Homo sapiens: one gene and its partner. The protein of the gene in region 2 interacts with the protein of the main gene of each other region in a biochemical or structural test. Each region holds a gene or a part of one and is shown on either strand. Other genes may lie near its edges. The genes, in order: ATF3 and NR1I2.

Region 1 (16,688 bases), on a different chromosome or scaffold from region 2:
CAGAAGCACTCACTTCCGAGGCAGAGACCTGGCCTGGGTGTTGAAGCATCATTTTGCTGAAAGACACATTGAAACCCAAACTGTTTCAGGGGCTCTGGGGCATGGGATCAAGTCCCCCTCCCCCACCAGACCTCCAACACCAGAGCCCCACCCTCAGAGAAAAGTCCCATAAGCCCTTGGGTTTCTGTTTTGTTTTCATTTCATGCCATCCTCATCTTAAGTAAAGCAGGTTCTTAAAATACACATAGCTCAGTGACATGAACAAAATGCCTATTTGAAATTTATAAGGGATGATGTTTCAGGCTACTCTGAATTCACAAGATCTATGAGTTTTGGCTGGTGTGCCTATGTGCAAATGTGGCCACAAACAGTCCTGAAAGAGGAAGAACATTTTTTAAAAATCAGTGAGGCCATTTTAAAAATCATGAGTAATCTCATTTTCAGCTTCTTTTTCTTTCTCTCTCTCTCTCTTTTTTTTTTTTTGTATATTACTCAAAATAAAGTTTCTTTCACTTAAAAAAAAAAGCCTCTTTTTCAAAGAGGCTTGACGTCAAGCTGAAACTATCAGTGAGTGGAAGTAAAAGCAAAAAGTGGGGAATCCTTGAATTTAGCAAATACATCTCTGAAGCTTCTCCCCCGAAGTTGGGCCCAAGCAATGGGAATGAGAAAGGTAACTGTAGCCAGGTGCGTTTCTTCACCCCAGTCTTTGGCAGGGGATGGGGAGGTGGATTCTTAAGGTTAAGGTTGGCAAAGCAAAAGGTCTTAAAGAAAAGTGAGGCACTGTATTGTGGGGGAGTTGTTCAGGCCTGTGGTATAGGGATAGACTTAGGCTGGGTGTGGGGGCAGGGAACCCTGGGGCTGGCTCTGGCACTAAACAGCAGTGACTTGAGCTAGTAATTTCAGCTCTCTAGGACCCAGTCTGTGTCTGGTAAATGACTGACAGCTCCTCCAATGCAAGCATTGAGTCTCCACCATTGCTTTACCCAGAGCCTGGCCCAATGCCTGACTCGCCATGCCTCATTGGCCAACTGATAAATGAAGTGGGGATGGGGTCATCAAATCAAATGGCCCCCACGGTCCAAGGTTACCTTTCTCATTCCCATTGCTTGGGCCCAACTTCCGAGGGAGAAGCTTCAGTGATGTATTTGCTAAATTCATCTCCCTCTGTTATTCTATAGCTCGGTGAACCCAAAAGGATGACAAAAGGAAAATAAAGAGTAGAAATAGTGACAGTTCCATGGCCCCAATTTGGAAGAGTCCCCCATAAGTCTTGGCCTGCTGTGTACTCCCTCCAGTGGTGGCCATTTCCCCTCCTCCCTGCAGTTGGTTCCCAAGGGACAATGAGTATAGGGATGAGTGTAGGATGAGTGTGGTCTGGGCATTCCTCTCAACCGGGGATCTGTGGTCATTAGCACAGTCCAGACAGAGAAGAAGCCCTCTGGCAAGTCTCGAACATTTAAGGAGTGCCTCCTTCATACCAGAAACCTTAGGGGCACTATCTCATTTAATCCTCACGAGAACCCAGTGAGTTAAGATCTAGCTGCCTTTTATAGATGAGATAATTGAGGTTTAGACAAACTAAGTCATTTGCCCGAATTCACAGAATTAATATGGGGCAGCATCAGGATTTGGAATTAAGTTAGTTTGGCTCCAGGATTCATGCCCTTAATTTGTACATTGCAAAAAACAAACAAATATTATTCTACATTACAAAAACAAACAAGCATTATGTTATATTGCACAAACAAACAAAAAACCAGAGCAAATTTTCTCGGGGCAGGCCTTAAGGTAGGTGGGAGGCCTGGAAATGAAGTGATAGAGGGGAGGCTAAGTAAAGATTCCTCGGGATAAACTGAACTCTGTTTAATGAACTGCTAATCTTTATGTCACGGTGCATACCCAGGCTGCTTGCTAACTGCCTTCTGGGAGTGTGAGCAAGTGGGTCTCTTATCCACAAAATTCCCAGACTGAGGTCAGAAGATGAAGATTTGAAGCCCACTTACTCCATTATGTGTTATCATTGTACCTCCCCGTGGCTTTTTCTCCTCTGTTAAAGAGGGCTTGTAATAATCGCCCTATTTTCCCATAATATCCTATGAGGAATTGAGGAACTAATACATGAATATGCCCTGGAAAACATTCTTTGGCCAGGAGCTCCATGATTACTAGGCCTCCCAGAGATCTCTCCAGCCCAGGGCTGGCTCTCTGACAGAGGCTCTGTGGAGTCCAGGAAGGAGGGCAGCTGGTCACCCACTTTGATCTCAAAGGCTTCTGAATAGAATACCCTGACTTCAAACTCCCCCTGGAGATCTAACATACACCAATGGAGGCAAGACTTCCAGGCCAATGAAATCTGCCCTTGACTAGTCAAAGAAACCCAGGCTATGTATGTAATTCTTTTCCCAAAGCCCTGTGTCATGAGTCAGAACTGAAGTTCTTCTCTCAATTTAATCCTATAATCTTAGGATGCTGGGAGGATACTTGTCGCTGTCAGGCAATAAACTCTGAGAAACTAGCCTTCTAAAGCCAGAGGCTTAAGATTCTCCCATGCATTCATGTTTCCCTTCCCTTTCCAAGTTTATTAAAAACTCAGTGATTCGGGGATGACATTCAGAGCTGCCACTGGGCTGGTCTTTGTTTGGAGGCCTGGATGGCTCCCTTCTACACGGGGACTTTGAATTCCACTGCAGTAGAGTGTAGTTCCATTTTGCCATCCAACTAGGTTTATTAATGAGCTCTCAGGGCTTGGGGTCTGCTGTTTATGACTCCCGCCCCCTACCCTTCTTCTTATGTAAAGTCAGCAGTCCCAATGAAAGAAGCTGAAGAATGTCAGTGGTATGGAATGCTTTTATGAAAAGCATTGGGTGGGCTTCCTTGGGGACATAAATGGTTGTAAAAATGTTAAAAGCCTTTCAGAAAATAAAACAGATGTATCTGTCGAGATTTGGGTTTTCTCGGCACTAGGCTAAAGCTTAACTTCTCGGGATACTTTCTAGTTATTCCTTTACTCAGTCTCTCGAGGTATGATTCAGCCTAGACTACGGCTGTGTCCCCACAAGGAAATGAAGTTAAATCTTCACACAATTTTTCAGAAAGTTGAGATCCTCAAACATCCCGGTCATTGAAAAAAATTGTTTGGGGACCTCAGATCAGAGTTGACTTTCTATGCTGATCATAAAATTGTTCAGACTTGCTACCAAGAACTTGCATTTTGTTTCTGCTTGATTATTTCCAATCAGAAATCATGTTGTATCATTGGCAGTTTCATCATTTTCAAGAAAGTGAAAGTTTACTCATGTATTCCTTTAACTGGAAATTCAGCTCCCAGATTTTTATTTCCTAGTAGCTACAGCTACATTGAATTTTCACTTTTAATTTTCATCCTCTTTCCACTAAGCATTGCTTGCTAACCATCTTATGTTACTAGGAAGCCAGTACTGGCCTTTCACTAACTCTTCATATCTTGGTCTTCCTCCCAGACCTCTTGAAGAGGTGCAAAGCTGGGCATCAAGGGCCAGAGACAATGTTTCTAAGCCTATCAGTGCCACTCATAAGCTGAGCATCCACCAACAAATCACTTAGGCTTTCTGGGCCTCTCATTCTCTTCCTCTGTAATTTGAGATCAAAACTGCCTTCCCCAAAGGGCTGTTGAGAAGGACATATGAGATTTACATACACACCGGGTAGTCATTACTACTGTGACTCCATCTTCTCCATTTCAGGAAAAACTCATTCTGTTGTTATCAATTCAATAAAGCCCTGTTAGTGAGGAATTAACTGGAACCTTCAAGACATTCAGGTCAGTCAGAGCCTCTTTTGTACTCTCATTGACCCCAAGTTCTTCACAGACCAGGTAGGTTTCACCCCACTATTTGCTGATGCCAGCATTTCTGCATTACATATTTGAAAGAGAACCAATTCTCACATATAAACCATTTCTCCCTTGGAAAGCTTCTGAGGCATCTTGGCTATGTCCTTCCTCCTCCCCTGGCTGGGTAAACACTCGAAGCCACTGGCCCTGTCCCATGCCCAGCCAATTTTAAAAAGGAAGGAATCATGGACTCTATCTAATGGAAATCACACCCTCTCAATATTAGAATCATCTAGGTCAGATTCTCATTTCATAATGAGTACATTGGTCCAGGGAGGTAAAAATGACTTGCCTGAGGTCATAAAGCTGGTGAGTGGCCCAGCCCATGCCAAGCTGCTGAACACCCACCGACTGCTCATTTTGCTCCATCACCAATAGGTATCGACCGCCTCAAGGGATCAACCAACAAGGCAACCAGAGAACAGAGCCATTAGCCAGGTAGATAAGGGGTCAAGAGTCCTGGCACCTGGTACCAATCACAGAGGAGACTTTGACAGGACTGAGATAGGGAGGGGCTATCGAAGAAAACGGCCATGGAGAAAAAGGAATTCTATAATGGCTAAAGGGCAAGGAGGAAGAGAGAGAGAAAAAGAAGGCTCCCATCACTGCCACAGATGCTGGGTGCTGTATCTTATCCCCACTGCGGGCGTGGGGTGCTGCCTTCTTTGCTGTCTCTGAAACCATTCCGACAGTAACTGCAATCCTCACCCCATCCCATCTTTGCCCAGGATATCCTCAAAGCAGGAGCCTGTATGTTGTAGCATTATTCTACAACCAATGCTAACTGCAAAACAATGGGGACAGTAATACCAATTTTTTGCCTTCACTTTAAGTTACAGAGACAGAAACTTCGAACAGAAGATATGACTGTCACCTACAACGAAAGGGGTACACTGAGAGAACATCCAGATTTTCTGGCTCTCCTTTTCTTTCTGGGTTCATCAAGGATTTAGTAACTATTTTATTTGTAAGAAAGCATATGTGACCTATGCAATGAAATTAGGGAAAAGAAAATGTTTAGGAGGAAAGGAAGTAGATGAGAAATGAAAATGGGAGTGGGGGGAGCAGAGAAGGAGAACGAATCCAGTGGAAAGAAAGCTGGTGAGGGAAAAGATGCCCTGCAGAAAAGTCCCCTTTCCCCCACTGTCTGGACACTGGTGAATGACATTAGATAGAGACCCACCCCATTCAAGTCCCCTCACTGGCTCCTTTTCTCCCCACTACACCACTCCAAAATCTGAAAATCTCCAGACAGAAAGGACCTTAGTAGTTATCTGGTCCAACCACTGCATTGTGCCCTCCAACACGCAGAGGGGGCCGGTACTGCCCATGTGCCCTTATTTCCCGGCTCCGCATACTGAGGCCCAACGACATCGATTGCAGTGTAAGCGCTCAGAGTCCTGGCACTAGACCACAAAGCCATTCTCTCAAATATCTGCACAAGTGGCTCCACACCCTCGCTTCCCCGCCACGGTGGGTCTCCCGCGGACCCGCCGAAGGAAAAGCCAGAGTGAGAGTCCCAGGTGTGTGGGAGTCCCGGGCTCGGGGTCCGGACACCAGCCGTTGCCGGGAGCCCTCCCCGTCTTCCGCCCCGGGACAGCGCGACACCAGCGCTCGCCACTTCCAAGCTTATCCCAGCTAACTTTTTCTCGGGGTTGCCTTCACGGTCCTGCCGCCAGTGCTGCGGGGTACCCAGGGCGACCCCCAGCGGCCGCGCCCGGGACGCCTCCCGCCCTCTCGCCCCTTCCCCATTCATTCCTCTCGGCGCGTGGGGCAGCCCTCCCGCAAGCCTCCGGCCTTCGTGCCTCTCTGCGCCCCCCCCCCCCCACCCGGGAAGGATCGGCTCCCACAGTGCCGTGTCTCGAAGCGAGGGATGGAGCGGGACGGCGAGCGAGGCAGCCTCGGACACCCCAACGCACCCGCCCACCCACCTTACGCCCTCTCCCAGCCGGGCAAGCCAGCGCCGTCGGCGGAGAGAAGCGGCGCTCGAGGCTGGCGGCAGAGTGGACGCCCGACCTCCGTCACCAGGAACCTTTCGCGCCCCAAGTCAAAAGAGAAAGTTAGTTCTTTCGCTTTGCGGGAAACTTTTCGAAGCGCCGAGGAGCAGCGGTGGCTTAGAAGAAGTTTAAGCCAGAGTTATTTCCAAGCCGGAGGCTGGGGGCGCGGATCCGGGGTGGGTCAGGGGTCGGCGGACTGGTTACTTAGAGGGGCGCGAAGGGAATGAAGGCGAGCAGCCCTCGTCGCGCTCACTCCCTCGGCTTCCAGCGCTCACCTCCAGGCTCCGCTCGGGGCGGCCAGGGTCGGGACGGGGTCGGGCGGGCTGTTTGTCTGGCCGGCGGGCGAGCACCGAGGACTCACGGCCGGCGCGCGGGCTGAAGGGTGCGCTCGGGCGGCGGCGAGAGAAGAGAGCTGTGCAGTGCGCGCCTGGCTGCGTGCGACTGTGGCTTGGAGAGCGTTGCATCACCCCTTTTATAGCCCTCAGGCTGGCGGCGCGGTCGTTTACTCCGTGTTGCCAGTCCCAGGCTGACGTAATGCTATTAATAGCTTCCCGGGAGAACCGGCCGAACGGAGCGGAGGAAGGGGGGTGGAGGAGGGGCCAAGGCGGGGCCGAAGGCGGGTGGAGAGAGGGGGCACTGGTGATGCAAGTTCGGGGAGGAGCCAGCCCAGGCGCGTTCCCCCAGCCTCGCTCACTGAGACACACACCAGCCCGCCCTCTCTCTCCATATCAGGACCGGAGCCGCCCGGGATAGCCGCCAGATGTGCGTACTCGCTGCTGCGTGTTCCAGGCATGACCAATGGTGCCCAAGCCAGCGGCATGACTCCACCGCGCTGGCATCTGTCCCTCCGCTAGGTTGAAGAGCGGGGGGGGCGGGGAAGGTGGGGAGGCGGGTCCCGGCCCCAGCCCAGACTAGGTGAGGCTGGGAAGCGGGCACGACCTTTCTCTAAAATGCGTGGTCATTTTCTGGAGCTTCAGGAAAATACCCCCTCCCCCACTGGCCTCCTACTTCTCTAGCAGGGGCGGAGTAGGGGCAGAAGCGTTAGTCTGTGGTGTGGGGAAGGTGTCCAAAGTCACCCTTCGGTGTATCCACGCCGTTACCCGCCGGGTGTGACCTCTGCGGCGGGGACCGCGAGAAGCCCGCCGGTTAACACAAAAGCGGAGGGCAGCCCTCGGCTGGCACCGTGCGCCCGAGCCCGCAGCCCCGGACACTCCACATGGACGCACACGCAGGACAGCTCCGGGCTCCGAAACTAGGGCGAGTGGTAGGACCGTATCGGTTCGATTTTTTTTTTTTTACAATCACAAAGCGTTTGAAATTGACAAGAACATGTCAGTGAAACCAACAAGAGCGTGAAAAGATCGGAGTCCAGGAGGAATCAGAGGCAACCCGGTGGGAGGGTAGGAGGGGGCGGAAGCCAGCGGCCAGGAGGAGGGGGAAAGAGAAGGTGCTTTGGGGTCCGCGAACCTGCCCAGGCCTGGGGGTCGCCCCGCTCTCAGGCAATATTTAGGGAAAACCCATGTTCAGCTTTCACGTGTTCTTCTGCTCCCAGAGCCGATTGGACTGGGACCGGACGGCCCGGAATGGGGACGCAATGACCACAGGCGGAACCCGCAGCAGAAATCCCCTCTGCCCTCAAGCCAGGGTGGCGGGAAAGGCGGGGCCCCGTGGTCCGAGATTCGAGCTGAGACCTCAGCAGAACTGGGTTTGAACCTTAAAAACGATTTCCTGGTTCTTATTCCCCGACCCCAACAATTTCTGCTCAGAGAGCGGCAGAACCAAGGAACCTTCTTGACTGCCCGTGGATGACTATTTGTAGACACAAGTGTGGCCTGGGACTTTCGCACCTGCCTGGGAGGGAGACCTGCGCGGCCGCAGGGTGTGGGGGCACGGTGAAGGGCAGAAACACCTGCTCCTTTCCACCTGCCTCTGGGAGAGAGGCGGCCGAAGGTCACAGTTTGGTAATTTGGGGTAGAAACTAGAGGTGTCTGGAGCCTGGGTCTCACTTGAAGTCCCCAGTTCCCCCCACCGGGGTTCCTCGCCGCCAAGCCCGACCTCACTCAGACCACCCACCTCTCCACGGGCCTGGGAACACGCGGAGGGCGGCCTCGGAAGTCTTTGCGCCCCGGCGGACCCGGGAGCCCTGGAGTTCCACGCGGGATCCTCCGAGATCCTGCTCTGGACCTGAACCGATTTCCAGCGGCGTCGCGCGGGAAGTGCAGGGCGGGTGTTTTCGCTTTACTTTTCGCCCTGGTAACGGCTCTCCGGGCCCCACCCTCCGCTTCCACGCCCTCACCCCCGCGCGCCGCTCAGCACACCTCCACAACCCGCCCTCCCGCTGGAGTGCGCGCAGGTAAACCCCGGGCGTGTCGGAGCAGCCCGGCGGACACCGGGCGGGATTAGGTGGAGGAGTGTTTGCATTTGAATGAAGTTATTTGTTATCTCTACTTAGCTATTTTATCTACTTATAGATTGTTCTGGAATAAATAGCACCATTATAAAGTGAAGCAAGGAGAGGAGGGAGAACACGTGAAGCTTTTTACTCTTTCTGCTGTGAAACAGAAATTTTGACCAGTTTACAGGTTGAACTATGATTCCATTAAAACACCCAAGCCAGATCTGTGGAGATCTGCTCCTGTCCTTAAGGGGAAATTCAACTTAGGGCGTCAAGTAAACAAACAGCCAGACCGTCCTCCACAAAACAATGCAAGGGAAGGATAATTGGGGTGGGGGGAGAAGCCCCCAACACCCCGGTCGGGTTATTCTTATTACCATTGTGCCTCCAGTTCTTTTTATCAATCTTGCTTCATTCTAATTACTCTTAGTTTGGAATCTCCAAGTTGGATAGAAATGCTGTCAGCTGTTCACGGAAGTCTGATCCTGATATTCTAAACCCGAAAAGTGATAAGAATCTTGACAGAGAACTAAGTCCACTCCCACTTGAATGAAACTCTTACCCAGGGAAAACGAAAACTACTCCTGCCTGCCTCCCTCCCCTCAGCCCCCAGGAGAACCGTGAAATGCCTGCTGAATTGAGAGACTGGAAAAGAACAGAGCAAGGCAGAGCCCCTGAGGTCTTTGCCACAGGAGAGTGATCAACATCTGAGTCCTTTGCATCCTTATTTTACCCTGACTTCAGTTAATGCCACCAATGTCCAGTGTGCACACTCTCAGCACACACACAGGCAGTGCCATGAAGTGGAGGGGACAGAAAAGCTTTCCACACCAAAACTCTTCTCCATGCAAACAAAAGAATGGCTGTCTCGCCTTAGAAGGAAGCCCTGGCTAGGGTGATTTCAGGGGTTAATCCTCAATGAAAGAGGGTTAAGCAGAGACTTGAAGATTGCTGAGGTTTTATGATGGTGAATTGCCTGGGGAATCCACATTCAGATCAGCCTTGGTATGTTTTGCTGAGTGAGATAAGAGTTGGAGACTTCATGCTGGGACATGTGCAAAAGGAAGGGAAAAAATTAAAAGGGGAGGGGAAGGAACTAGGCAACTAAAAACAGCCCACTCGTGGCAACCAAATCTAAACAGAAAAACATTGCAGGGAGCCAAACGCAAAAGAAAAAACAAAAAAGTTTGAGATATTTAAAGGTTCTAGCAGTTTCTTAGTTCAGTGCACAGTCCCTTCCCACATTCCTCTGCCCCATTACTCTGTTCTCTAAACCCTAAGACTGTATTCGTGCCCAGAATGCTAGAAACACAAGATAAGATCTGCCAGAGAAGCGGCAGAGTACTAGCAGCTCTGTCTGCCTGGCTCAACCTACTTCTTCGCTTTGGAACGGGAGTGGAGTCCATTTTCTTATACTTTATTCTGTTTCCGAAGCTCACTCTTTCTACAAAGTCAGTTTGAATGTGGGGATTGCTAGTTTAATAGTGTCCAAAATTGGCATTGTCAGGAAACAGGGGCAGCATCACACAGTAGGCACCAAAGTGTGGAAGGCACTTGGATTCTGGATTCAGCACTTAGATGCTGTGTCACCTTAAGTAAGTTATTTCCTCAAATGAAAAATGGCACTAACAATAGCACCTAATGCATAAGATTGTTGTGACATTTCTCTGAGGATGTGGCACCCAGTCAGCCCTCAGTAGTGGTATCATTAATTAATTATGAATCAAGAGAAGCTTTCTGAGGTACCCTTGAATCTCTCCAGGAACTCATTCAGTATCACTTGTCAGTGGAAAATAGTGGATGAAGTCAAGCGATCTCCAGGAATGACAATCAAGAGGGGGCGGGAGTGAGAGCCCAGGCAGACACTGATGAAAGCCATCCTCGTTCCCCATCACAGCAACTCCACCACACACCTGGGGCTCTCCTCAATGCTGGATGGCCCTGCCAAGTATCCTGGGCTAGGAGCAGGGGATTTGGGTTTGGGGTCTGGTTCTGTCTTTGGTATTCTTGAGCAAGGCACTCCCCGTTTCTAAGGCTCCCAACTTTTCTGAAGTGAGGAGCCTTGGGCTGAGCTCTGACGGTCCTGAATGGGGACCCTCTGCCAAAGCCACCCTATGAGCTTCTGGCAACTTTCCCTAAGAGAGATGGGGAGAGAGAAGACATCATAGGTAAGGCACTGAATAGAACAAGGACAGACCCATTTCTGCAACCTTTCTTCCCCTCCAAAAACTAGAGTTAAGAAATGTTGTCCAACTTAAACACAGCCTGTCCTTCTCCCACCTCCAATACTTCCAAGAATTTTCACCCCCATGGACTAGGTGCCTTGTGAGAGAGGGATGTGGCAGAACACCCCAGGCATGGATTACATCTCTGGTGACTTCTTGTGTGTAGCCCATCATCAACAACCATAGACATCTACCTTGGTCTACAGGGCCAAAACCCAGGTAGCAGATATTCCCATTTGAGAGATTGAATCCAGAGACCCCAGAATCCAAGATGAAGTCCTGGAAGTCAGTAGATTAGCAGGACTCAGGAGACCGGGGATTCATCCACAGGTTTACCTCCAGTCAACTGAGTGAGTATACAAGTCATAAACACGATGTCTCAGTTTCCCAGTCTATAAAACGTAACCACTTAGCATTGACTCCCCCTAGGTTGTTGTAAGAATCAAATGAGATAGTAGATGTGAAAGTGATTTGAAGATAAAAGATTCATAGTTTTAAAGATTTCTTTGGGGAAAGTTTTACTATAATTTTTTTGTCATTATGAAAATTTGGGAAACAGACAAGGGAAAAATATTACCCACAATCTCAACACTATTAACACTGTAGTGTGTTTCCCTCTAATCTTTTTTCTCATGTACATGATTTTAAAATACAGTTATGATTTTAGATTGCATGCACCTTTGAAATTTGCTCTTTTGCTTATTACCTCGAATGGTATATGGTCTTTCTTCTTAAAAATATGTCTTATTATAAAGTATAGCATATATACAAAAGATTATATAGAACACACACACACACACACACACACATATATATACACACACATTTTAATAATCAAACACATTAGGAACTCACCACTCAAGAAGTAGACCTCTTTGCTTCCCAGAGGTAACCACTATCCTGATTCTTATTACCATAACTTGCCAATGGATGTTCTATGATTTACTTAATCATTTCCCTACTTTTAGAATTTAGAGTGTTGCTAATATTTTGCTTGAATGCTATACAAATTCAAATATTTTTATAAGAGAAAGGATATCAAATACCATCATTGCTCAGGATGCTTAAATGGGGTTAAAGAATGAGTCTTGATGTCTACCTTCAAATGCTACACACGGCATATATATGGTGGAAGATGGAAGGACCCCCAAAGATTGTGACTACTTGTGCATTTTCCTTGTTTCCTAACATCCAAACAAAAAATCCTGCAGGCGCTTTTTCCTTTTTTTAAATCCCTGCCCCTCTCTGCTTCCCATCCTCCTTTATTTCCTCTTCATCTACCTTGAAGCAGAAAATGTAGTCTGCAGCATGGGCTAGTAATACAGAATTAGAGCAGCCAGGCTGTGCTTCTCCCTGTGCCTTCAGGCAAAATTCTCAGTGTAGCTCGGGCAGCTCTAGCATCTCTATGCCAGTTTGGTGACATGAGTGGCTACCAGGTAGCTGGTCACTTCAGTCTGCACCTGAGCAGGTGTAGATGTTTGGCGGTGATTCTCAGAACTAAAAGACACCATAGCCAAAAGGACCCTAGAAGTCATTCACTTCCATTTTCTCAAACTGGACATGAGCACACACAGGTGTACCAGGGCCATGAGATAAACAAAGGAGATCTTACTTGAGTGTCTGCCTTAAATAAAAAATCCTTAAAATATTGTGTTGTATTAAACATATATAGATATGTGGAATTTGAATGTAAGTCATGCAAGGATTTCTAAGGAAAGAGAGAAGATATCAAATACATTCTGGGTCTAGCATCGGCTGCCAAAAGTTTTATTCCTGGGACCTTGAGAGGATTAGTTCCCTCCCTTCTTTCTAAGTGTAAAATGTTACTATGTAGCATTCTGGGTGTTCCGTGCTATGTACTAAGCCCTTTACGTACAGTTAATGCTTTTAATTATTGTAACCACCCTTTGATGGACCGTAAACATCTCCATTTTATAGATGAGGAAACTGAGGCACAGACAGGGTAAATAACTTGCCAGAAGTTACCTAGCTAGTGAGCAGTAGAGCAGGACTCAACCCAGGCAGTCTGACTCCCAAGTCTGAGTGCGCAACCACGATACCTACCACCTCCTGGCAAGTGCTCACGGGAAACTTGGGATGCTCTGATGCAGTTCAGGGCCCTCCTTTGATGGATGAGGAAACTGAGCTTACAGAGAAAAATGTGGCTCTACATCGTGTCAGAATCATAAATTCTCATACCGAAAGGAACCTTAGCAGCCATTGAGACTCGTGAACCCCTTTTTTGCCCTCCACCTGGGGAGATGCTGCTTTTGCTAAGAATAGGGCCAAGGTGAAAAAAGCTGATTGTAAGAAGAGCACCCTAAAACATTTTAGGGGCACCTTAGCTAGTGGCTGGCAAGGCATACTATCCTTGGGGCTGAAAAGGGGATGGTGTAGGGTAGAAGCCAGGGATGGCAGAAAGAACCTGTGGTCAGATAGAACTGAGTTCAAATCCTCTTTCTGCCACTGCTTATTTAGTTTTAAGAAGGTCTTATAACCTCAGTTTCTCCTGTAAAATGAGGATAATGTCTGTTTCCTCATTTATATCTGTTTCCTTAATCATGGGATTAAGGAACAATACACCTTTATTATACATTGTATGCCTGTATCAAAATATCTCACATGCCCAATAAATATATACACCTACTATATACCCCCCAAAATTAAAAAACAATTCACCCTCAAAAGTGACATTCAATAAATATTGCTTTTTTCCCTCTTCACGCCTTACCCTTGAAGCTACCAAGTCATATGGAAACCTGAGACACCAAAGTGTCTAGACCCTCATGGAAAGTTCCATCTCTCAGGCTGGCTTACTGACTGATTTTAAAACAAATTTAAAAAAACTTGATGTGTGGCCAGGTCCTATTTAGTAATTACTATTTACTGAGCACATACTACATGCCAGGCACAATAGTAAGCACTTTTAAAAATACCCAGTATCTTATTTCATCCTTATAATAACCTGTGAGGTAGGTTTTTTATCTCGGTTTTACAGATGAGGAAACCAAAGCACAGAAAGGTTAAGAAAATTGCTCATAGGTACTTGATTTAAACACAAATCTAACTTATTTCAAAACTTACATTAAGCGATACTGTCCTCAAAATCTTAGAGAGCATGATGTGTGTTTACTTTTCTTTAGCCTTCCCTACCTTGTTGAAAATGAGCACCCTCGCTTTACCAAAGTCTTGCTGAATGCACAGATGCTTCTAGAGTTGACCTTACCAGAAAATTCTTACTCCTGATGTCCCAGAGGATACATGCTTAATAAATTCCAGATCCCTGTGCCCTCAGGGATACTTTCCCCCCTGCCAAATTTGCAATTATTTCATAATTTGCTTTAACCACAAACATAAGCCCTGTTATTGACTGAGTAAACTGAGTAGGGCTTTTTGGACTTTTATTCTTTTCCCAAAATACGATGAACTTGAATCATCAGATGATGAACTTGTACTTGAAACTAGAGTGGCTGAGGGCAAAGTGAGTCACTCCAGTGAGTTTATGCCTATCAATCAATGCATCAAATTGTGTCCTATTACCGGACACTGCTCTCAGCAGTCTACTTAGACACCTTGGGGTTACAAGGACAATATAAGAGCATTTCTTGACCTGAAGAGTTAAAAATCTTGTTTAGGTGGCAAATTAATATACATGAAGCAGAAGTCCAGCAATATAGTAGGTATTTTATATATATACTATATATATATGTATGTATGTTTAGTCCTCCAACATTTTAACGAGCACCAACTATATGCTGGATACCGTGTCAGAAGCTGCAGGTACACAGTGATGCATATCTGCCTTCCAGGTGCTCACAGCCCATGGGGAGACAGACTTGATAACAAATAGTTACAGCCTGATGCAGCAAGGGCTAAAGTGGGGCAGGACGGCTCTGCCCAGGAAAGCTGGCAAGAGCTGATGGCTGAGGTGACTGTCGAGCTGGATGTTGAGCCGACCGTTTTCTAGGCAAGGGAAGTGGACAGGCATTCCAGGCATAGAGAAAGTCATATGAAGAGGCTGTGAGTGCCAGGAAGGGGCTGTGCCCTGCTCATCTCTGTCCTTATTTCCAGCTCTTTGCACAGTTCCAGGCACATGCCAGACCCACAGTGAATACGCATTCAGTGGATGAAAATACGGAATGGAGAGAACATGCACAGTGTTTGGAGAACAGTGAGGCAATTGCTGAGCAGGAGTATTTGTGGAAGGGAGGAGACGTTAGGGAAGCAAGTCTGGGAAGAACAGACTGTGATAGCCTTTGAAGATGTAATAATCAGTTTGGACTCTGTCCCCAGGGACAAAGGGAGGGGGTCTGTCAGTGGCAGATGGACACAAACAGATGTTTTTCAGGAAGACTGCTGGTAGAGGGCTGAGGGTGGGCTGGATGGGAGAGGAAGATGCCCATGGAGGGCCATCAGGAGGCTGCAACACTGGTCAGGTGAGGCCATCGGAGGCCAGATGAACTGTGAAGATGGTGGTATCCCCACTCTCGTATGTTGTTCACTCAAAATAAAAATTATTCACAAAACACAATGCTCTTATGTGTACTGAAATTAAAATAGCCTTTTTCCCCTGGATCTTTTCATTGCAAAATTCAGGATTGCTTTATTAAAACTGAGCTTCCCTCACTTTCGGGGGCCCTCCCCATTACAGGTACCCTAAGCAGGCATCTGATCAGTCTTGGGAGTACAGCAGTGTTGCCTCACCTGAGGCAGGGCTGGTAAGGAGAACAGGAGGGGATGATTTTGGGAAACTTCTAGGCAGACATCTTTGGATTTTGGCAGAAGCTTGGTGTTAGGATAGATGGAGAGGGGAGGAATGCCCCTATCTCAGATGTTATAGAGCATAGCATTGGGGTGGGAAGGAACTGATTGGGTATTGTAGGCAGTAGAAGTGGGAAAAGACTAATAAGGGCATTTCGGGACAAAATGCTTAGCAGTGGGATGTCAAAGAAGGGAATGGCCCCTAGCCATCAGCATGTTGGGGATATCAAAGTAATGGAAAGACTCAGAGGAGAGAGGAGAGAGAGGGAGGAAGAAGAGCCAGGTTGGGGCCTAAGGCATAATGTAGGAGTCAGTGTGGATTATTGGAAATTTACGGATAATTACCAAGTACCATGAAAATCTACCTCACTGGTTCACAGCTGTAATTTATGCTTTCCCTCAGGCTTTGGATAACAATATTTATTCCAGCTAGCTTTCTGATAAAGTGATTAATGAAGACCAGAAATGGTCCCTCAAGAACCAGGAAAAGCCAATGATCCTCAGCCTGACATAGTTGAGAACTGACAAACTAGACACTTATTTAAACAAGTCTTTTTTCAGTGCTATGCCACTATTTTAAAAGATATTCACAAAGAGATTACAACTTAGGGAATGCTGTAGAGATAATGTGGGTTTTAAATGCAAGATACATATCATCTCACCCCAGTTAAAATGGTTTTATCCAAAAGACAGACAATAACAAATGCTGGTGAGGATGTGCAGAAAAGTTAACCCTCGTACACTGTTGGTGAGAATGTAAATTAGTACAGCCATTATGGAAAACAGTTTGGAGGCTCCTCAAAAAACCAAAAGTAGAGCTACCATATGATCCAGCAATCCTACTGCTGAGTATATACCCAAAAGAAAGGAAATGAGTATATCAAGGAGATATCTGCACTCCCATGTTTGTTGCAGCTCTGTTCACAGTAGCCAAGATTTGGAGGCAACCTAAGTGTCCATCAACAGATGAATGCATAGAGAAAATGTGGTACTTATACACAGTGGAGTACTATTCAGTTATAAAAAAGAATGAGATACTGTCATTTGCAACAACATGGATGAAACTGAAGGTCTTTATGTTAGGTGAAATAAGCCAGGCACAGAAAGACAAACATCATATGTTCTCACGTATTTGCAGGATCTACAAATAAAACAATTGAACCCATGGACACAAAGAGTAGAAGGATGGTTACCAGAGGCTGGGAAGGGTAATGGGGGTGGGGGAAGGTGAGGATGGTTAATGGGTTACAAAAAAATAGTTAGAATGAATAAGACCTACTATTGATAGCACCGCAAGGTGACTGTAGTCAAAATAATTTGCTTGTACATTTAGAAATAACTAGAAGAGTATAATTGGATTGAGATACAAAGGATAAATGCTTAAGGGGATGGATACCCCATTTCCCAAGATGTGATTATTCCATCTTGCATGCCTGTAT
Region 2 (16,482 bases):
GGTGAGTGCTGCAGATACATTTGGGCCAAACAGGAATTGGGTACAGACATGGGAAGTGGTCATCTTTAGTGCAAGAAAGAATGAAATGATCAGTAGAAGGTGCAAGACACTGCCTATTAGGTTGGGAAGTTTAGTGATGATGTAGGGCAAAGGAGAAAATCCCACTATATATTTCTAGCAAAATACTAGAAAAGGGATGATCTACAGGAGAGAAGCCCTTGTCAGGGCGTGGTGGGATATAGTTTGAGAAACACAGAGAGAGGGAAAACTAAGGCAGTGAGAATGGGGGGATTGTAGTTTAGAAAGAGTCAAGAAGCCAAGTGAAAGAAATTCAAGCAAAAGAACAGAACCCAGCCTTGACTATTTCCAGGCACCGGCAATGGGAGGGAGGAGGCAGCATTAGGAGATGAGGAAGGCAGATTAACGGGGAGCCCAGAGAAACTGCAGGTGATGGGCATGTTTCTTAAGAGAATAGGAGAAAAGAAGAGGGCTGCTGGCCATGCAGAGGCTAGAGAAGAGTCACAAGGAAAGGCAGACACCCAGCAGTGCTGTGTGGTCCTAAACAAGGGAGGCAGGGCTGACTGGCTGAGCAGAGCAGGAGACTGAAGGAATTCACAGTACAATGCCTCAGAGCCCTTTTATGTCCCTCTCCTGCCCCACCCTCTTCCCATCCCCCTGCAGGCACACAAAGCTTATCTGTTACTGAGTCATCCCTTAAGGTCTGCCTATGTTGCACTTTGCCCTGCTAAAGGACTCTCCAGGGTCACAGCCGGAGAGTCGCTGTCTGGGACACAGCTAGTCTCCACTTCTGCACTTGCCCAGCTCCCTTACTGGCCTGTGCACTGACCAACCCCAGCCAAGAGCCAACTCCCCAGCTAGTGGTGTTTGGAAGAGCAATTTCATCTGGTGTTCAGGTTAGTCAATGGGCAAGTAGAGGTGCCCTTTAGTCAGCTTACGTGGGTTCTGAGGCTTACACAATTTGGGCAGTCCTATTTTATTTTATTTTACATTATTTAATTTAATTTACTTATTTTGAGACAGAGTTTCAATCTTGTCACTCAGGCTGGAGTGCAAAGGCACGATCTTGGCACACTGCAACCTGTGCCTCCTGGGTTCAAGCAATTCTCCTGGCTCAGCCTCCCAAGTAGCTGGGACCGCAAGGCATGGGCCACTACACCAGATTAATTTTGTATTTTCAGTAGAGACAGGTTTTTCACCATGTTGGCCAGGCTAATCTTGAACTCCTGACCTCAGGTGATCCATCTGCCTTGGCCAACCAAAATGCTGGGATTACAGGCATGAACCATGGCGCTTGGCCTGGGCAGTCCTATTTAAGAAAAAAGAATATAGGCCAGGTGTGGGGGCTCATGCCTCTAATGTCAGCACTTTGGGAGGCTGAGGTGGAAGGATCAATTGTGAGGAGTATGAGACCAGCCTGGACAATATAGCAAGACCCTATCTCTTAAAAAAAAAAAAAAAAAGGCTGGGTGAGTGGCTCACACCTATAATCTCAGCACTTTGGGAGGCCAAAGTGGGAGGATCACTTGAGCCCAGGAGTTCGAGACATGCCTGGGTGACATGGTGAGATCCTGTCTCTACAAAAAAATTTAAAAATTAGCCAAGTGTGGTGGCACGTACCTGTGGTCCCAGCTACTCAGGAGGCTGAGATGAAAAGATTACGTGAGCCCAGGAGGTCGAGGCTGCAGTGAGCCATGTTCACACAACTCCAGTCTGGGCAACAGAGTGAGACTCTATCTCAAAAAAAAACACCCCAAAAAAACAAACAAACAAAAAAACTCAGCCAGGCATGTTGGTGCATGCCTGTAGTCCTAGCTACTTGGGAGGCTGAGGTGGGAGGATTGCCTGAGCCCAGGAATTCAAGGCTGTGGTGAGCTAGGATTGTGCCACTGCATTCCAGCCTGGGTGACAGAGTGAGACCCTGTCTAAAAAATAATTTTAAAAAACACGCAATTACAAATACAAAATTATGTACCGAAGAGAATATTTGTAAGAAAGAATGAGAAAAGAAATCACAACAAATGACAGACATTAAAAAGGACAAGTAACAACATCACAGAATTCAGAAAAATGTCATAACACTTTCATTAATTAATTGCCTGGCATGCCTCTATAATGTTTTTGATCGTGTCCTTATGGTAGATAGAATAAAGGCCCTCAAAGATGTCTGCACCCTTATCCCCAGAACATGTGAATATGTTTCCTTATATGGCAAAAGGGTCTCTGCAGATGTGATGAGGGTACAGAACCTGGAGATGGGGAGTGTGCTGAATTATCCAGGCAGGCCTAGTCTAATCACATGAATCTTAAAATTAGAAAAGCTTTCCTGGGTTTGATCAGAGAAAGAGACGTAATGTGGAAAAAGGGTCAGATGCTAAGTTGCTGGCTTTGAAGATGGAAGAAGGGGCTGTGAGCCAAGGATTGCCACGGCATCTAGAAGCTGGAAGAGGTGAGGAAACTGATCCTCCCCTACAGCCTCCAGAAGGCAGCCTCCACTGATTGGGCAGAGTTGGGATCGCTTGGCCCACGGTGGTCCTGTCCTGCCTCTCTGCTGCACTGTAACTCTTTAATCTTGCCTGAGTGGTAAGGATTGAGGCTGTTCATTTTCCTTGTGGTAACTCTGGAGGGGAAAAAGTGGACTTTGGCTAGAAGAGAATGGGTGGGCAGCAAGTTTCCAGAGTTACAGTGAGATCTGATTGTGTTAGTCCATTTTGTATTGCTACAAAGGAATCTGAGGCTGGGTAATTTATGAAGAAAAGAGGTTTGTTTGGCTCGTGCTTCTGAAGGCTGTACAAGCTTGGCACCAGCATCTGCTTCTGGTGAGGTCTCAGGAAGCTTCCAAGCATGGTGGAAGGTGAAGTGCGAGCCGGCATGTCACACAGCAAGAGGGAGCAAGAGAGAGAGGAGGTGCCGGGCTCTTTAAACAACCAGCTCTTCTATGAACTAAGAGTGAGAATCACTCATTACCGAGGGTACCAAACCAGTCATGAGGGATCCACCCCCATGACCAAACACCTCCCACTAGGCCTACCTCCAACATTGGAGGCCACGTTTCTTTTTTTTTGTTTGTTTTTTGTTTTTGAGACGGAGTCTTCCTCTGTCACCCACTCTGGAGGGCAGTGGCGCGATCTCAGCTCACTATATCCTCTGCCTCCTGGGTTCAAGTGATTCTCCTACCTCAGCTTCCCGAGTAGCTGGGATTACAGGTACATGCCACCACGTCCAGCTAAATTTTTTTTTTCTTTTTTGAGATCTGAAGTGATTTTATCTGTATTTCCTTCACTTTAAGCCAATCATGAAATTTCACAGTGATTTCTGGAGTGGAGGCAGAAGGAAGGCAGTGTTAAGAATCACTGGGGCTGTGGCCTAGTTGGCCCATGGAGGTGCAGGCAGGGTGGGCCCTCACTGGGGCAGCTGGAGGAGCACGGACTGCCCTGCCGGCAGATTGGTGATGTTCCAAGAGCGAGAGAGCTGGTACGTGATGTCCTCTGCAGCTTCCAGCTTGCACAGCTCCATCAGGCCGTCCCCTGCAGTGGCCAGTGAGTTCTGGCCCTCTCTGCATCCTGCTGAGCCACCTGTTTGGCTTCCACTGCTTCTGTGAACTCCTTCCTGAAGGTCAGATGTGTCAAAGACACATCATCCAGGATGAGCCCAAAGGTGGCTGCTCGCTCCATAAGGTCGTCGCTCACCTGCCTGGAGACCAGTTCTCTCTGGGTGATTAGTTCTCCAGCATCAAAGCGAGCCACCACTGACTTGAGGATCTCAGTAGTGATGGATGGCAGCACACGCTCATCATAGTCTTCTCCGATCCTGGTGAAGATGCGAGGAAGCTGGCTAGTGACAGGCCCAAAGAGGATGCACGGAATGATATTGACATTCTGTAAATCTTTGCTACCAGTGATGACTGGCACATTATGTGGTTGAGAACGGTGGTCAAAGATAATTGGTTTCTGTACCCATGGTATGAGAAAGTGAGTCCCTTACCCTACCACAATGTCCTGTACTCCACAGAATCGGTCAAAGATGACAGTTCTGTGCCCAGCATCCATGTTATATAAGGCAGAGTTCACCATGCCTTCTGCAACAGCTAAGGCCAGTCCAAACTTGCCGATGGACTCAAACACTTGGCAGCTATGTTTTCTTCTGTTGAACCCTCTCACACCTGTTTCCACTCTGAACTCCACATCTAATTTTTGTATTTTTAGTAGAGATGGGGTTTCACCATGTTGGCCAGGCTGGTCTCAAACTCCTGACCTCAAGTGATCCGCCCGCCTCAGCCTCCCAAAGTGCTGGGATTACAGTTGTGAGCCACTGAGCCCGGCCTAGAGGTCATATTTCAACATGAGATTTGGAAGGGATAAAACATCCAAACCATATCACTGATTTTGACAAGAGACCCATCAAGTAACTTTTTTTTAGGACAGGGATGATCAAAGAATGCTTTTGATAGAAAATGGTATTACTTCCTTCCTCCATCAGAAGAAGACAGGTGTGTCACATGAGCTGTCAACATTGGTGAAGCAATCACACAAGGGGACAAATGGTGTTACATAGGAGTGTTCACAGCCTCCCACCTCTCCTTGTACAGGAGACTCTCATAGATGTTAATCTAGCCTGACATTGCAGGAGGAGGCCACTCTGGAGGCCAAGCCCACCCCAAACCTGCTCTCAGAGAAGCTCCTGGTGCCCAAGCAAAGGTCCATAGGCCTTCTGGGGCCTATGAGGGATGGTGTAATTGCTCTGTCCCAGGGACAAGTAATTCCCTGGCCCATTTAGATCCTCTTCTAGTGAGTCTGGATGTCAGACATACAGACAGAGCTAAGTTATAAGGTCTGCTGGCTGGACTGCTGCCCAGGGGGCTGCCATATTCAAAGACACCAAAACATTATTGGAATGAATCAGAAATCAGGTGAATTTTAGATTGCCTCCTTTCCTACCAAAGCAGTCATCACCCTGAGGTGGAGACTTAAAACACTCCTTGACAATGCAGACTAGTATCTGTACGGTGCTCAGGGACACTCACATGCCTGTCACACAGGGCCACTCCAGCCAACCCAACCCTGAGGACAGCCCATTGAAGTTGGCAGACAGAGCCAGAAATGGAAAAATATGTGGTGTAGGGCTGTTTGCAAGGAAGAAATGTACTGTTTTATTATGTGAACACTTAAACATGCCTTCCAAGAAGTTGTGTGGTTTGGAAAATTACACAGAATAAATTATTTATTTTGACCATAAAGAACATAGTACACATTTAAAAGAACATCACTTGCCAACAAGCACATGAAAAAGTACTCAACATCGTTAATCATAAGGCAAATGCAAAGGGAAACCATAATGAAACATCACTTTATATTCAGGATGGCCGCTATCACATAAACAGAAAATAACAAGTGTTGGCAAGGCTGTAGACAAATGGGAACCTTGGACTCAGGTGGTAGGAATGTAAAAATGGTGTAGCCATTATAGATAACAATATGGCAATTTCTCAGAAAATTGAAATAGAATTATCATATAATTCAGCAACCATTTCTGGATGTATATCCAAAAAGAACTGAAATCGGGGTCTTGAAGAGATATTTGTACACTGATGTTCACAGCAGCACTATTCGCAATAGACAAAATGTAGAAGCAACCCAAATTTCATCAACTGATGAATGGATAAACAAAACATGGGACATACTACAATAGAATATGAGTCAGCCTTAAAAAAAAGGAAATTCTAACACATGCTACAATACGGATGAACCTTGAGGACATTATGCTAAGTGAAATAAGCCAGTCACAGAAAGACAAATATGAGGTATAGTAGTCAAGCTCATGGAAGCAGAAAGTAGAATGGTGGTTGCCAGGGGCTGTGGGGTGAGGGGAATGGGAGTTGTTTAATGGGTAGAGTTTCCATCTTAAAAGATGAAAAACCTCTGGAGATTGGCTGCACAACGATGAAAACATACTTCACATTATTGAGCTATACACTTAGAAATGCTTAAGATGGTAAAATTTGTTATTTGAATTTTACCAGAACTAATTAATTTTTCAATCCTGCTCCTTCTGTATATTTTACAAATTAAAAAAAGAACATCACCAAATAAATGTTGATCAAATATTTAAATAATATTTAAATTGAATTTAAATTGAAAAGGAAGCCAAAATAGTAGACTGGTTGGGGTGCCTCAGTCCTGCCCTGTGCATGGCAGCCACAGTGCACTCAGAGAGAAGGCAGGACAGGGAAGCTGTGAAGCAGGAAGGGCCCCGAGGAAACAGAAGTTGTGAGGAGGAGAAGCAGCAGAAAGAAAGGAAACAAAGGAAAGTAACATCAATAGTTGATATGGTTTGGCTGTGTCCCCACCAAAATCTCATCTGGAATTGTAGCTTGCATAATGCTACATATGTGGGAGGGACCTGGTGGAAGGTAATTGAATCATGGGGGCGGTTCCCCCAATACTGTTCTCATGGCAGTGAATAAGTCTCATGAGATCTGATGGTTTTATAAGGGGAAACCCCTTTCGCTTGGTTCTCATTCTCTCTCTTGCCTGACACCATGTAAGACATGCCGTTTGCCTTCCACCATGTTTGTGAGGCCTCCCCAGCCACATGGAACTGTGAGTCCATTGAACCTTTTTTTCTTTGTAATTTACCCAGTCTCAGGTATGTCTTTATCAGCAATGTGAACATGGACTAATACAGTAGTTAAAAGCACTACAATCAGGAAGAAAAAGATAACCATGTCAATTAAAGTGCATTTGATCCCAACCTGAGTTCTGAACTACATTTTAATCTCTAGGAGGTCAGGGCCCTGGCAATTGAGATTTTTGCCTTCCTTCTCTCCCATGCCTGCTTCAGAAGTGCCCCCGTTTAAGGTAACCTGGAGCCTGTGCTTACAATCTAAGAGAGTGATGCTCCAGCTTTCAAGTACATACAGATCACCCAGGAGCTTATGAAAATGCAAATTCCCATTCAGTAGGTCTGTGGTGGGTCTGAGCTTCAGCATCTCACAAGCTCCCAGGTGAGCTGATGCTATGGGTCTGCAGTCCACACTTGCAGTAGTAGCAGGGAAATCCAACTAACCAGACAGAAAATTGGCAGTACACAAACAGACTGGCATGGAGAAGATGATCTTGTCAATAAAAACAACTTTATGGTGCTAGGAAATAAAATAAATAATCAAAGAGATATGTGAAATGACTCACATTATAAATTGTTGTTTAAAGTCAATATACAGGCCGGGCACAGTGCCTCACACCTGTAATCCCAGCACTTAGGGAAGCTGAAACAGGAGGATCATTTGAGGCCAGGAGTTCGAGACAAGTCTGGGCAATACAGTGAGATGCCATCTCTACAAAAAAATAAAAAATTAGCCAAGTGTGGTGACATGTGCCTGTAGTCCCAGCTACTTGGGAGGCTGAGGCAGGAAGAACACTTGAGCCCAGGAGGTCAAGGCTACAGTGAGCCATGATTGTCCCACTGCACTGCAGCCTGGGCAAGAGAATGACACCTTGTCTCAATCAAATGAAAATAAATAAATAAATTTGTATAATGATGGCCAGGGATGGTGGCTCACACCTGTAATCCCAATGCTTAGGGGGGCTGAGGCAGGAGGATCACTTGAGGCCAGGAATTTCAGATGAACCTGGGCAACAACATGAGACTTTGTCTCTACCAAAAATAAATTTTAAAAGTGTCTGGGCATGGTGGCACACACCTGTAGTCCCAGCTCTCTGGGGGGCTGAGGCGGGAGGATCACTTGAGCCCAGGAGTTCGAGACTGCAGTGAGCCATGATCATACCACTGCTCTCCAGCCTAGGTGACACAGCAAGACCCTGTCTCTTAAAGTAATAATAATAATAATTTTTTAAAAAGTCAATGTACTTTGAGGGTGAGATAGTTCCTTCCCAGGAAAAGGATGTGGGGAGGACATACAGATAAATTTAGTCTTCAAATGAGTCAAAGCACAAGCTTTGGAACCAGGTCACTGAGATTATGGGAAGAGAAGAGTGGGCAACTTGAATTTGAAGCAACAGAGTCTAAGTAAAAGGGGGTAAATGGATAAAAAAACAAAAATCATAATCTTTGGGATAGAAACTCTTGGAGATAGCAGGATTATATTTAATTATGTGTGTGTGTATACATACATATACATACACACGATTACATATATTTAATTATGTGTGTATACACACATATATATACACACACGCATAATTAAATATATATATAATCATCCTACTATCTCCAAGATACACATACACACCACACACACACACACACACACACACACACACACACACACACACACACACATATTAATAGCAGAACTGGCCAGAGGATAAAGAGAAAAAAGCAAGTAAGGGGAATGTAATATAAGAATACTGAATTTCTAAGATGCAGGCAAGTGATGCCTATAAAACCATTGACGTTGTTCAGTGAAGGGAGACGTTTGGTGAATTTAACTCACATTTGCACAAGTTTTGCTGTTTACAAAATGATTTCAAAATTACAACTTCATGTCAAGGTGCCTGTGAGGAAGGCAGGGCAGGGCTTATCCCAAGTTGAATAAGGGAGTCGGGGGCAGGGCAGTTCTTATTATCCCTTTTGCAAATGAGGAAACTGGGGCTCTGGGGTGTGTTCCAGTTCATGAAGTCAATTAATGACGGAACTTTTTTTTTTTTTTTGGAGGCAGTCTCACTCTGTCCCCTAGGTTGAAGTGCCATGGTATGATCTCTGCTCACTGCAACCTCCACCTTCTGGGTTCAAATGATTCTCGTGCCTCAGCCTCCCAAGTAGCTGGAATTACAGGTGTGTGCCACCACACCTGGATTATTTTTGTATTTTTAGTAGAGACGGGTTTTCGCCATTTTGGCCAGGCTGGTCTTAAACTCCTGACCTCAAGTGATCCACCTGCCTCGGCCTCCCAAGGTGCTGGGATTACAGGCATGATCCACCATGCCTGGCCAGAACATCTTTTCTTTTCCCTTATTCTGATTCTTCCTGTCATGTAAATAGATACATGATGCAAGTTGTTTTTTCACAGAATTCATGGGGGCAAAATGAGGCTATATGTTTTAAATTCTTTATGAAACAAATCAAGTATTATTAACAAAACCTCCTCACTGGCCCTGGCATGGGGCAGGCCTCCAGAGGAAACTCAGATAGCCAAAGTCACGGTTTATGAATTCAAGAAAGAGAAGTCAGCTGCTCTCTTCAGGGGGCCATAAATGAAAATTGGCCTTTATGCTTCCTGGGACTTGGTCATCAGATCCAAGAGGTCAGAAGGTTACTAGACACAGATCAGGGTTGAGAGCTGGCACCAGCCCAGGTCATAAGTACACACAGTACCCTCTTCCAATATTTAACAGGACACAGTGGCCTCTGAGTTAACTGCCTATGTCTTATCAATGCATGTGTAGTGCCAGTGTTGCCTGTGGTTTTATAGTTTGACTCTTTGGAACTTACACAGATCCAGGAAAATTATTTCAAACATTACATGAGGGATTTGGATATGTCTCTTTATGTCAATTTCCAGTTGGATATTCAGTTTGTTATATCGATGTTTCAAAGAGGTTCAGGAGGTGTTGCAGGGAACTTTTCCCAGCCCCCTTCAAATTGTGCCACCTAAAAAGCCCCTGTATGCAAGAGAGGTTCCCTACACATTCCTCCTGTCCTCCCCAGGTTGTGCCCAGGACACCAATATCTGAAGTGTGAGGGCAAGAGTCTGATGGCTCAACAAACAGAACGTGGCAACCACACTAAGAATTTGAATTAATGTTGTCCACGTTCCCTGAATTTATTGTTCTTTTTAATGGAAAAATCATGGGTCTGCATTCCAAGGGTCCTAGTGGCTATTGGATCATCTCTGCTTCTATCACCCTTGGGATGAGCTATATAATTAACTATGGAGATATGATAAGGAAATTAATCAATGCTTAACAGCATTTAATAAAACTCAATATTCATTCATGATTTAAAATTCTTGGTTAACCAAGAGGAATAGAAGAGAGCTTCACTAACTTGATATGGAATAGTTACTAAACACTTTTACTAGCTATCTTATTGGAGAAGCATTAGAATCAATCTCATTAAAATAAAAAATAAAGATTTTATTGCTGGCACTATGATGGAGAAGTTGGTTACAGAAAATCCTCCTGGTATGCAGCACCTAGAAATACTAAATTTTTAAGAATGTCATTTTTCATGCAGGATTGAGCTGGTAGGAAAGTAAAGGAAGTCTCAAGAGGCCAAAATTTATAAGATTATGCTAAGCCAGAGGCATGAGAAAGGGAAGTCATGATCATCCTGGAGTTTTCTGGACTCCTGTAGGCCTGGGGCCTGGATTTTAATGGTAGAATAGGAGACAAAGCCTGGAGCCTAACCAGATCATAGACTATAAACTCAAGATCCCCTAAGGGTGACATCCTCAGTAGAAACCATGGAGGGAGACAGGTCTATCCCAGGCCTTCTCAGCCTTGGCTCTGGGTAGAGCAAAAAGAAAAGTCTCCTTTGAAATTCTTAACAACAGGCCTGCAATCAAGTAAGTTTGGGTCAGGATTCTCACTATTTGTGTGGCCAGTAGACCCCAAGCTTATGGTGGTCCCAGTTAGTTCTGTCCTCAGGTTCCTGGCAAAAGCAAAAATAAATCCTCTAGAGGAAAACAATTTCAATCTCAACAAGTCCCAAAGAGAAGTTTCCAAATGAGTTCATAGTACAAAATAAAAATGGAAATCAGGAACATGACAAGAATTCCTAGGACATCTAAGTGTTTGTAAAGAGTATCTCCTAGAATTGTGCAGTATAGAACCCACACAACTGTATGCATCACTTCTGAGACTATCTACTTTCATGGCTACTACTCAGCATTATGCTGAATGGCAAAGAAAAACCAATAAGACACAAAAAATTAAGGTTTGTAAAGATTGGAAAGGAAGGAGCAAAACTCTTACTATATATAGATGATATGTTTGTCTAACTAGAAATTCCAAAGGAATCAACTGATAAGCTTTTATAACTATTAAGAGAATTCCATAAGGTAACTAGGCAAAATATCAAAACACAAAATAGATTTTCTATTTATTGGGGGAAAAAATCAAGTAGAAAAGGTAAACATTATAGTGGAAATTGGCTCAGGAATAGGAAATAAATACAAAAGGACACAGAAATGGACATGTGTAAGTGGGAATTTAGTACATGATAGAGGTGATATTTCAAACAAATAGGAAAAAGATGGACTTTTCAATAAATAGTATTGAAATAATGTATTGCAATAAGTGCCAGGTGAATAAAGACTAACTTTTTAAATAAAAGTATTACAGGAAGGTGCACCAAAGTAGCTTCATAATTTTGGAAGTTGAGAAATCTTTTAAAAATCAGCCTCAAAGAGTAAAATCCAGAAAGAGGGAAACTAACAGATTCAACTACATCAAAATAACAACAACAATAATAGTAAAAATTTCTGTTGGCTAAAAAGTATGATTTAAACAAAGCTTAGAGAGAATATTACACACATATCAAATAATTTGCATTGAGAATAAATAAAAAACTCCTACAAAGAAGAAAAAAAATCCGACATAAAATAAGCTAAGGATATGAATAGGTAATTTAAGAAGAGAAATACAATGGCCAAGAGGGGTCCTATAAAAAGAATGCTCAACTTCATTAATAATCAGGGAAATTAAAATATTGAAATAATGGGTTGTCATTTGCACTAATTCAATGGAAAAAATAATAAAATACTGAATAAACAGCAAGCATTGTTTGGAGTGTGGAGGAACAGTAACTATCCTTCTCTGCTGGTGGGAGTACAGTCGGTTCGGGTACTGTGGAGGGCTGTTTGGCAGCCAAAAATTGAACCACATATATCCTGTGATGTGGCAATTCAACGTCTTAGTAGTTCCTCTAGTGCAATACGTGCACATGTCTAGAAGCAGACAAACACAGTGAGGTTCATTGGTAAGACTGAAAAATTGGAAAAGCTTAAATATCTATCGAAAAGAAAACGGCTAAATAAAAGAAGTGTACACTGTGAAATATGACGTAGCAGTTAAAATAAATGAAGTAGAGCTCTATACAGATATGGAAAGTCTCCAAGTCTTGCTATTGAGTGGAAAAACAGAATTAGAACAACATGGCAACAGATAGGTTTAATAGTCCATCTATGCATAGATGAACACACACACAGACACAATGGTCTGGCAGTAAATATATCACACTAAGTACTTTTGGGGAAACTGGAGATTAGGATTGACAGAATGGCCAAAGGTGAATTTAGGTTTATCTATACTGCTTTCTCATTTTCAAGGAGCATGAAATCATGTATTACTTTATAATTTAAAAAGTTATTACCTAAAAAACCTAGTCTAGTCAGTTTTGTGGTTGTCTTGGGTTTATTCCATAATAATTTTGGAACAAGTTGACAGCTTTTAGATCAGGAGTTGGCAAACTTTTTCTGTTAAAGGCCAGATAGTTAATATTTTAGGCTTTGTGGGCCATACTGTCTCTTTCGCAATTGGTCAATTTTGCTGACTCAATGAATCAGCTATAGCAGGCACTATTCCTCTCCCACATGGCCTCTAATGATATGGCCAGAGTTGAAAGGATGTTGTAGGGCAAAAACAGCCATATACAATACATAACGAATGGGCATGGCTGTGTTCCAATAAAGCTTCATTTATAAAAACAGCTGGTGGGCCAGAGTTAGCCTGTGAGCCATAGTTTGTCAACCCCAGGTTTAGACTTTTATGACATAACTAAAATATTTTTAAAGCGTATTTGTGTACCACAAAATACTTTTTCCCATTAACCAACTGATTAAATAAGCCTCTGAGGCCTCCCTTAGCATCCTTTCAACTCTGACCATATCATTAGAGGCCATGTGGGAGAGGAATAGTGCCTGCTATAGCTGATTCATTGAGTCAAGACTCAGTGGCCTCAGAGGTGTCTGTTGACCTGTCCTAGATATGGAGTGGCCTTAAAGCAGTGCCTCTGGCCATAGCTTCAGCCGAGCTGGGCTGTAAAGTGGAGAGAAGAAGGACCTGGTGGCACTGACCACATGCAGGCAAGACTCGGTTCTGTGGGACAAGGTGCCCTTTCAATAGTAGAGGTAGAAAACTCACTGGTTTGAAGCCAACTCAGCCGCAGCACTGTGCAGGGGTATGGCAGGTGCTCTGAGGGACCCCTCCTTGAAGTGGTGAGTCCTGGTGACTGTCATGCTGCTGTCCTTGGCCTCAGGGGGCTGCCAGCACTAACCCAGCAGGCCAAAAGGAATCAGGACTGAGTTGATCCCAGTTCCCATAGTCCCCAGCTCCCACAGTCCTTGGAGGTGGTATTTCCTGGGTCCAGGGACTCCAGCCCTGTAACAGGGAGCTGGTTGTATGTGTGACTTGTGGTAACTCATGCAGTAGTTAAGGCTTCTCCTGTGGTGATTTTTCTAGGAGGCTAGTGCAGGACCAGAGAGCATCAGTAATGGGGCTCAACATTAAGTGATTGTTTTCATGCTTTTTTTTTTCCACCCTAGAAATGAGGAGACAGCAGCAAGGCCAACATGATTCACGACCCACTATGATGCTGACCTCAAACAGAAGGTATATTTGTGTTCACACACATCTTTTGGCTGGAGCTGAAGGGCGGTCAGCCCCCAGCAAAAGAGAAAGAAAGAAAAACCATACCTGCTTGGTGGTAAGTTCTTTGCTCCGACTTCTCCCCTGGGGTCCACTTTGAACAATCCGGTGCAAAGGATCGATCAAGGAGTAGCTTTACCAAGGAGCCGCTGCCTTGTTCAGGACAGGAGTATTAGCTTATTCTCTTGCTTTTCTCACTGTGAACACTTGGCTTGCAGGCTGAGGCCGAGATTCCCACTGAAGTAAAGGCAGTGCTTCCTCTTCCCGTCCTAGTCATAGGTTATGATTTCCCCGGATATGAGACAATCTTGTCTCTCACCTATATTTCAGTCCAAGTCAGATGTAGGCACTAAGCGGCTCCATTGCCCCTCCTAAGTCCCAAGTCCAGCACTTGAACTAGCAAATGAAGAGATTACCGTATTTGTTCTCATTATGTTCTCCCTACTTTTTTCTTTCAGGTCTCTTCACTACAAAAACACAGGAAAAGGGGAAGAGAGTGGCAAATATCCGCTTTGTCTAAGTAATTCTGAGTGCATTTCATCAGTCTGAGGGTCTCTGTCCTTTACCACTAGGGGCAACATTAATTTGAACCTAGATCTCCTTATACTTCCTCCTTTGTTGAAACCACCTCCCTGGATAGTGTTACTTGATGTGAAAGTGAGCAAAGTATTGATTTATGACGGTGCCAATCACCAGCATGGTTATGTAAGAGGGGGGCAGGCACACAGGGAGAGGGAAAGGGTGTGAGATGAGGGGGCTGAGCACAGTTCTCGAGAATGTGACCCCACCACTTTGATCTCAGAACAGAAGGCTGACCAGGAGTGGGGAGGATGGACCAGCTGAGGGCTCTTTCCTCTCCCGGGTCCTGCCAGAGGGGAGCTGAAGAGTCCTCACTCTTCAGCCTCAACCTTCTTATTCCCTAGCAGCAGGTGCTCCCAAGTGAACAGAATCAACAAAAGCCGAATGTGGTGGATACCAGGATGTGTTTCTTCTACTTGCTTTGTTTATAAAGATGCTTTATGGCAGGTGAGGGGAGTGGAAGTAACTGCTCCTACCTAAAAGGCAAACAAGTACAAGCCTCTGGCAACAGTAAAGCAGGGGCATGGGCCCCAACAAGAGAGGGAGAGGGAGACCACGATTGAGCAAACAGGTAGAAAAGAGAACCTGGGATTGCCAAAAAATGACCACAGTTGTCTTCAGGTGAACATTTGGACTTCCTTACATTTATTTATTGACTTAAGTTGTTATTATTTTGAAGTACATGCTTTAATCCAGCCCTGGTGAGAAAAGCCAGAATATCTAAGTATGATTTGTTTGTTTTGTTTTTAATTGGTTTCTTCTCTATCCAATTTGCACTTCCCAAGGGATGAGAAAGACTTGAGGCTGGGATTTCCTAGGGGTTGACATTTCTCAAGTGGATGCTTGCCTTGCTGTTTTCAACCAAGCGCAGAATGTAAGGTGCTTACACAGCTCACTGCTGGGGACTTACTGCCAGCAGTGGGGACTGGGACCCACAGCCATAGAGCTCTGTCCTTTTTCCAGTCACATTTCTGATTATCCACATGGGATTCTGCTAGGGCTAGGAGGTATTGGATTACAAATCCCACTGGACAGAAAGTTGACTTGGGCCTTAGGCAGGGAGGACCTAGAGTAAGTGAAATATTGAATGTCATGAGGATATTGGAAAGAAAAAGAGTAAGTGAAATACTGGATTTCAGTACCAGTGGAAGTAGCCTGAACAGTGTGCTCTGGGGTAGGAGGACAGCATGGGGCTATATCTGGGGCCTGCAGGTCCCCTGAGAAACACAGATCAGAAGGCCATGGCTAAAGCCAAAGAGGGTGGGAAAGCTGGAAAGGGTTAAGAACTCACCCCAGGAAACTTATTTCCAAGATCAAAAGTAGGCCTTTCTGCACTGACAGGTATCTCCAAGTCCAGGGAAAAAAGGCATGACTCCAGCTCAGGTAGGCCACCTTGCCAGAAGTCCTTAGGTTATGGGTAACATACGTAGCTTTCATCATCTCTCAAATCCCTTCTGGCTCACAAGGGCCTGACCTTCTCTCTCTTAAAAATATAGTGAATTATTTACAGCAGAAACAGGAAACTAAGAACAGATTATGAAACCACTGAGGTAAAGGAAATATTCTCAGGTTTCTGCAGGGATCTTTGGGTCTCTTTTCCTTTGGGTCTGTGGTGTGAAGTCCCAGCTAGAAGACAGGAGAAGGCTGTAGGAGTGCCAGGCCTCTCTAGTCTAGCACTGCACTGTTAATATCAGACATGGCTCTATAGTGAAATGAGTTAAGAATACAGCCAGAAAATACACTCTCGTTCTTAAGGACAGCTTACTAATGCCCTCAGTTGAGGGCCAGAGTCACTCTCAAGCCCAGCTGGGAAGTCAGAGAAATTTGAGGCCTTGACCTCCATTCTATACTTTGCCTATTGCAGCAACCAGAAATGTAGAGCTCCTAAGAAACTCATCAGAGAAAAGCAGATCTGATCAGCCTGAAGAGTTTCTTTTTTTTTTTTGAGACAGTGTTTTGCTGTGTCACCCAGGCTGGAGTGCAGTGGCATGGTCATGGCTCACTGCAGCCTCAACCTCCTGGGCTAAAGCAATCCTCCCACCTCAGCATCCCAAATACCTGAGACTACAGGTGTGTGCCACCATGCTTGGCTAATTTTTTTTTTTGTTTTTCTTTTGTAGAGACGAGGTCTCATTATGTTGCCCAAGCTGGTCTCAAACTCTGGGGCTCAAGCAATCTGTCTGCCTTGGCCTCCCAAATTGCTGAAATTACAGGCATAAGCCATTGTACCTGGCCAGTTTCCTCAGTGTGAATTCATTTAATGTTTTACCCCTCTCCA

The links.
Region 1: the proteins of NR1I2 (region 2) and ATF3 form a complex in vitro, tested with the Homo sapiens proteins (one study listed by BioGRID).

The regions. Positions count from the first base shown.
Region 1 is NC_000001.11:212,598,386-212,615,073, reverse strand, and holds the start of ATF3 (cyclic AMP-dependent transcription factor ATF-3), read right to left. Parts: upstream 6,314-16,688; 5' UTR 6,144-6,313; exon of another isoform or gene 5,803-6,143; intron 4,235-5,802; exon of another isoform or gene 4,227-4,234; intron 57-4,226; 5' UTR 53-56; coding exon 1-52.
Region 2 is NC_000003.12:119,779,492-119,795,973, reverse strand, and holds the start of NR1I2 (nuclear receptor subfamily 1 group I member 2), read right to left. Parts: upstream 13,874-16,482; 5' UTR 13,674-13,873; intron 13,265-13,673; exon of another isoform or gene 13,217-13,264; coding exon of another isoform or gene 13,122-13,216; intron 1-13,121. UniProt on the Homo sapiens protein: Nuclear receptor that binds and is activated by variety of endogenous and xenobiotic compounds.